Linked DNA regions of Homo sapiens. The protein of the gene in region 1 interacts with the protein of each later gene in a pairwise test. Each region holds a gene or a part of one and is shown on either strand. Other genes may lie near its edges.

Region 1 (3,500 bases):
TCAAGTCTCCAACTTCAAGAATTGTACAAATATGACTGTGACATCGCTTAAAAATACAGGAAAATTAAAAAAATTGTACAAATAAAATGAATCATGTCTATGACTTATTAATGGAACTTCAGTGGCAACTCAGAGGTATGTGACCCTTCGGGAGGTGACAACACTCCAGATCTGTGAGTGGCCCATGGGCCTGGGAAGAGCGGGAGCCTAGCCTGGAAGGCAGCAAGTCCTGCTTCTCTTTACTTACAGCCCCCTGCTGTCCCAAAGCCTTGGAAATCACACACAGAGAACACAGGTGTTCCCAAGGATTAAAAGGAAATAAATGCTAAGTGGCAAAGTTTATAAAGATGTTGACAAGAGTATTAACTTTGCTTAAAAAAAAACTAAAATCAGCCGGGCGCGGTGGCTCACGCCTGTAATCCCAGCACTTTGGGAGGCCGAGGCAGGCAGATCACCTGAGGTCAGGAGTTCGAGACCAGCCTGCCCAACATGGCGAAACCCTGTCTCTACTAAAAATACAAAAAATTAGCCGGGCGTGGTGGCAGGCGCCTGTAATCCCAGCTACTCAGGACGCTGAGGCAAGAGAATCACTTGAACCCAGGAGGCAGAGGTTGCAGTGAGCCAACATCATGCCGCTACACTCCAGCCTGGGCGACAAGAGTGAAACTCCATCTCAAAAAAAAAAAAAAAAAACAAAATACTAAAATCTCTTAGACAATTTTCCAGTTTATCAACACAGGTTTGCCAACTTAAACATCATCAAGACACACTGTTTTTCAGGCTGGATGTGGTGGCACATGCCTGTATTCCCAGCACTTTGGGAGGCTGAGGCAGGAGGACTGCTTGAACCTAGCAGTTTGAGGCAGCAGTGAACTATGATGCCACCACTGCACTCCAGCCTGGGCAACAGAGCAAGACCCTGTCTCTTAAAAAAACTTACCTAGCAACCTGTAATGGCAGCTTCCAATTAAACAGAAAAGGCAGCAAGTATCTAGCCAAATTACTTTATGGAAAAAGACTTATAAAAATATAGACCCTTGGAATATCCATGCAATGGAATATTCAGCCATCAAAAGGAACAAAGTACTGATACATGCTCAAAACATGAAAAGTGAAAGAAGGCAGACACAAAACGTCACATAATACATGTGATTCAACTTATATGAAATGTCCACAACAGGTAAATCCATGGAAACAGAATGGGGAGCAACTGTTTAATGGGTACAGGGTTTCCTTTTCGGGAGGATAAAAATGTTTTGAAACTAGACAGAGGTGATGGCTGCATAACACTGTGAATGTACTAAGCATAACTGAATTGTTCATTGAAATGGTTAATTTTATGTTATGTGACCTTCACCTCAATTAAAACAATTTTTTTTTTTTTTTTTTGGTAGAGACAGGATCTTGTTATGTTGCCCAGGTTGGTCTCGACTCCTAGGCTCAAGCTATCCTCCCGCTTCAGCCTCCCAAAGTGCTGAGGTTACAGGCATAAGCCATTGTACCCAGCCAAGATAATTTTTTTAGTTTAAAAAGTTTTCTAAGGCCAGGCGTGGTGGCTCATGCCTGTAATCCCAGCACTTTGGGAGGCCGAGGCAGGTGGATCACGAGGTCAGGAGATCGAGACCATCCTGGCTAACACGATGAAACGCCGTCTCTACTAAAAATTCAAAAAATTAGCCGGGCATGGTGGCGGGTGCTTTAGTCCCAGCTACTTGGGAGGCTGAGGCAGGAGAATGGCGTGAACCTGGGAGGCAGAGCTTGCAGTAAGCCAAGATCGCATTACTGCACTCCAGCCTGGGCGACAGAGCAAGACTCCGTCTCAAAAAACAAAGAAACAAAAAAAGTTTTCTAAAAAAATTAAGACAAGTAAAAACAAAAAATAGAGCTCTGGAAGAAAAGCAAAAATAATAAAAATGTATTCTGGAAAAGATTAAGTTGGATGGGGAAGGGGATTTAATGTCTTCAAGTATATGAAAAACTGCTGTGCAGAAGGTGAAGGTAACCATGTTCACCTTTAATGACACCTGATTCTTTAGTAACAGAATTGTAATAAAAAAGAATTATGCTAACACATAAAGAATCTCTGTTCCTACTTTAAGTGCTATTACCCTCAACTGAAATTTGTAATCTTGCTTTTGGATATGGAGAGAGATATATATATATTTCTATATATATATTTCTATATTTATATATATATTTATATTTATATATATATATATATATAAATTTATATATTTTATATATATATATATTTTTTGTTTTCTTTGAGACAGCCCAGGCTGGAATACAGTGGTGCGATCTTGGCTGACTGCAACCTTCACCTCCTGGGTTCAAGCAGTTCTCCTGACTCAGCCTCCTGAGTAGCTGGGATTACCATGCCCAGCTAATTTTTTGTATTTTTAGTAGAAACGGGGTTTCACGATGTTAGCAAGACTGGTCTCGAACTCCTGACCTCAGGTGATCCGCCTGTCTGGTCTTCCAAGGTGCTGGGATTACAGGCGTGAGCCAACACGCCCTGCCGGTTTTTGGATGTATTTCAAAGGCATTTAGTCTGGAACCCTTGGGTGGACTCAGTTCAGACCTTTGTTTCCAGTAAATGATTGTTCCTCACCTGCCTCAGGTGAGGACAGAGGCTTCTGCTTACCTTCTGACTGTTCCCCTGGTCTTTGGTGTGAGCTCTGTGATCCCTTAAAAGTCGGTTCCTCTGGCTGAACCTCCTGTTTCCATTGGGATCTCAGTGATTCTCTGGTTGCTCCCAAAGGGGCCATCTCCTTCATGAGTACTTTCAAGTCCTTCTCAGAATCTAGAACCTGAGAACAGACCCCATTATCTATCACTACAAATTCCTGCCTAAGCTGGACTTTACAACTCCTAAGAGTGGCATTAAAAAATGTGTAACATAAGGAAGCAGAAGAGAAAAATCTAGGAGCCACTGTATTGCTGCTGTAATAAAATAAAAATTAATAGAATTAGGTATTTGAGGGGCAGTAGCTTACGCCTGTAATCCCAGCACTTTGGGAGGCCGAGGCAGGTGGATCACGTGAGGTCAGGAGTTCAAGGCCAGCCTGGCAACAAGGTGAAAGAAACCCCGTCTCTACTAAAAATACAAACATTAGCTGGGTGTAGTGGTGTGAATCTGTAACCCCAGCTATTTGGGAGGCTGAGGCAGGAGAATCACTTGAACCCAGGAGGCGGAGGTTGCAGTGATCCAAGATCACGCCACTGCACTCCAGCGTGGACAACACAGCAAGACTCTGTCTCAAAAACAAAAAAAAACTCTTTGAAGTGGTTAAGATTATTTATATGACAGCACCTAGCATAGAGCCTGACACACCAGAACTGTTAAAAACTGAAATATATTTGTCAGAAGAGAGAATGTCAGCTTTCACTTTAGCAAACCCCCATGACTTCAGCACTAGGCCATTTCCTCTGCCCCCCAAATCCAGTATCAGTTCTGTCTTCAAAAGAGACCTCGCATTGGTCCTCTCTCTTCACCTCAT
Region 2 (3,500 bases), on another chromosome or scaffold:
ACTGAAGGGGAGGATCTCGGAACTGCAGTGGAGCGTGATGGACCAGGAGATGCGGGTGAAGCGCCTGGAGTCGGAGAAGCAGGAGCTGCAGGAGCAGCTGGACCTGCAACACAAGTGGGCGGGGCCAGGGTGTGGGGTCGGGGGTCGGGTCACGTGTGGGGGCATGCGTCCCACCTCTCTCCTGGTGGCTGGGTGGGATGTGGATACACTCCCAGATGCTGTCCTAATTCACAGACACTCAAGAGGGGCAGATGCTGAGGCCTCTGGAGCCAGGACCGTGAGCCCAGAAAGTGTCCTGATGTTCCTGGAGCAGAATGGGGGCAGCAACTTCCTCCCCCTCCTTCTTAGAGAGGGCTCCTGCAGAGCCAGATTTTACTTTATTTTTTGAGACAGGGTCTCACTCTGTCGTCCAGCCTGGAGTGCAATGGTGTAATCATGGCTCACTGTAGCCTCAACCTCCTGGGCTCAAGTGATCCTCCTGCCTTAGCCTCCCGAGTAACTGGGTCTGCAAGCATGTGCAGTACACCTGGCTAATTTTTTTTTTTTTGAGATTGAGTCTCGCTGTGTCACCCAGGCTGGAGTGCAGTGGCACCATCTCGGCTCACTGCAGCCTCCGCCTCCTGGGTTCAGTGATTCTCCTGCCTCGGCCTCCTGAGTAGCTGGGATTAGTTTTGCACCTGGCTAATTTTAAAAAACGTTTTGTAGAGATGGCGGTCTCGCTTTGTAACCCAGGCTGGTCTTGAGCTCCTGGCCTCAAGCGATCCTCCTGCCTCAGCCTCCTAGAGTGCTGGGATCCCAGGCTGAGCCGCCGTACCCTGCTGAGGGCTAGGTTGAAAGGGCAGCATCATGTGCCTTGGAGGTGGAGGGGGCGTGGCTGGGAAGGGATGTCCAGGCACAGGGCTGAGCCGAGGCACAGACGTGAGAGCCTTGTCTGGAGGTGCAGTCAGGAGACTGTGGGCATCTCCTGCAGACTTGGACCCTTCCATCAGCAGATGTGGTTTTAGGAGAGTTCTAGTTCCGTAGTAGAGAGGAGAGGTCATTCCTGGGTGGGGCCCTACCGCAGCTGCACCAGGGCTGGGGGTTGCCGCAGGCAGGTGAGAGCTGTGGGTTCCACTGTTGGAGAGGTCCTTGCAGGTGGCCTGGGCTCACTACGCACCCCGTCTGAATGAGCAGACTGAGGCCTGAGAGCCAGCCCACAGGGGCTGGGGCCTGGGACCTTGGGGTACCCATGCAGTGGAGTGTGTGTTGGCGGGGGGCGGGGGGTCTGTGCCGTGGGAGGTCCTGAACCTTGGGGTGGGAATGAACGTATGTGGGTCTGTGCTGGGGCGGGTCTCAGGCTGAGGAGAATTGTTGGCCTTGCCGCATGCCTGTTTCTGTGTGTGATGTATTTTTCTTTCAATAGAAAATGCCAGGAAGCCAATCAGAAAATCCAGGAACTCCAGGCCAGCCAAGAAGCAAGAGCAGACCACGAGCAGCAGATTAAGGTGAGTCACTCCCTGTCAGTGCCTTGTGGACATCCCTGTGGTGGCCTTGACTCTCCTGCCCCTGTCGGCCTTTCTGCGCTGGTGCCGAGCTCCGTGGTCCTTCTGTGAGGTTAGCTGCTGCCCTGTGTGTTGGGCACTGTGCTGGGCACCAGGGATGCCATGGTGAATGAGGCAGATGCTTCCGCTCTTGGGAGCGTGTATTCTAGAGGAGGGAGACTGACCACAAACACCAAGAGAAAATGTCCGTGTGTGTGATGACGTCAAGTGCTGATGAGCGTGAGAAGATGCTACAGGCATAGAGAGGTTGAGAAAGCTGCCCACAGTTGCACAGCTGGAGCTGGGTCTCAGTCAGGGCATCTGACTCAAGCTCAGGCTGTGCCATTTCCCTGCGGAGGACGTGCCAGGGAGACGTTGACTCCAGATCCCTCTCCTGCCTCCTGTTGCCTGGAGAGCAGCCTCCAGACCCTGTGCTCTGGCCGTGCCCTCTCAGCCCTTATGCACCCTCACCTCCAGGCTTCACACCAGCTCTTCCTGGCTGCAGAGCTGCCCGGCACCCCCAGCCTGGCCTCTGCCATGTCCGCTCCTGGTGGTGGTCCCTGGCCCCTCGCAGCCCTCAGTCCACCTCTCAGGATTTTCTGGCTGGCAGGGCGATGGACTCTGTTAGTGTTTGTTGAATGACCGTCTGGTTTGGTCGTGGTTTCATACTCTGCCTGTTCAGTGACTTGCTGCTCACAGATGCCAGCTGTCTGTGTCCCAAGGGGACTGGGTACCGTAGGGAAAAGCCTGTCCTCACTATTGGAAAGACTGAGCTGTCACACGTGCTGCTAGAGTGGCAGAAGTGGGCTTGACACGGGAGGGGTGGGATGTTTTACCATGGAGTGCCATCCTGGACCAGACTTGAGACAGACTTTTGCTCCTGGAGAGCTCCCCGAGGGCAGGTGGTGAGCACAGCAGCCCGGCAGTGTGCAGTGTGAATGCCAGCTCCCAGTACGCGGAGGGCTGGGAGGTCGGCGCTGGGAAGAGCTGCCCTGGAGTGGATGCTGAGGCTCAGTATTGGAAGCAGCTTCGAGGCCCCTGGTGCAGCCCAGGAAGGCCTCCCACAGGAGAGTCCTGAGGCATGGAGGCTGCTGAGGACCTGGGGCAGTTTAGCGAAGGAACTTTGTGACCTCAATGACTTTAATTTTTAATGGATGGTATTTTCTAGAGCAATTTTAGGTTCACAGCAAAATGAGCAGAAGGTAAAGCTCCTGTGTACCCCCTGCGCCCGCTCCTACACACACAGCCTACCCTGGTAGAGTGGAGCACGTGTGACGGTGATGAACCTGCCTGGACACATCAGTGTCACGCAGAGTCCACGGGTCATGCGAGGGTCACTCTTGGAGTGGGACAGTGTATGGTTCGGGCAGATGTAAAATGTTCTATATTTGCCATTAGAGTGTCACACAGAAAAGTTTTACTGCCTAAAAATCCTCTCTGCTCCCCCAGTCAATCCCTGCCTCTCTCCTTCTGAGCCCTTGACAACCCCTTCCTTTCCCAGAACGTCCTGTGGTTGGATCCTGCAGTGTGTATAGCCGTTGCAGACCGGCTTCCTTCTCTTAGCCGTGTGCGTGTGATTTTCTCCAGGTCTCTTCGTGGCTCATTTTTCCCTTCTTCTCTGTCCCTGGCCTCCATCAGGATCTGGAGCAGAAGCTGTCCCTGCAAGAGCAGGATGCAGCGATTGTGAAGAACATGAAGTCTGAGCTGGTACGGCTCCCTAGGCTGGAACGGGAGCTGAAGCAGCTGCGGGAGGAGAGCGCGCACCTGCGGTGAGGGGTTGCGGGGGATGGGGCAGCCGCCTCGAGTGAGTCTGGGTTTGTGCACATGGAGCCCACTGTGCAGACCCTGTAGGGGCAGGGCTCCCGGGCTCTTGGCCTTATCCCTAGGGTGTGTGGCTATTTGAGCGACTCTTTGTGGCACTGCCAGGGAGATGAGAGAGACCAACGGGCTGCTCCAGGAAGAGCTGGAAGGGCTGCAGAG

What was found. The genes of interacting proteins can lie anywhere in the genome.
Region 2: the proteins of ZSCAN32 (region 1) and MAD1L1 interact in binary tests that used the Homo sapiens proteins (3 or more experiments, as listed by UniProt).

The regions. Positions count from the first base shown.
Region 1 is NC_000016.10:3,391,005-3,394,504, forward strand, and holds part of ZSCAN32 (zinc finger and SCAN domain-containing protein 32), read right to left. Parts: intron 2,811-3,500; coding exon 2,645-2,810; intron 1-2,644.
Region 2 is NC_000007.14:2,215,946-2,219,445, reverse strand, and holds part of MAD1L1 (mitotic spindle assembly checkpoint protein MAD1), read left to right. Parts: coding exon 1-114; intron 115-1,402; coding exon 1,403-1,484; intron 1,485-3,158; coding exon 3,159-3,289; intron 3,290-3,446; coding exon 3,447-3,500. UniProt on the Homo sapiens protein: Component of the spindle-assembly checkpoint that prevents the onset of anaphase until all chromosomes are properly aligned at the metaphase plate.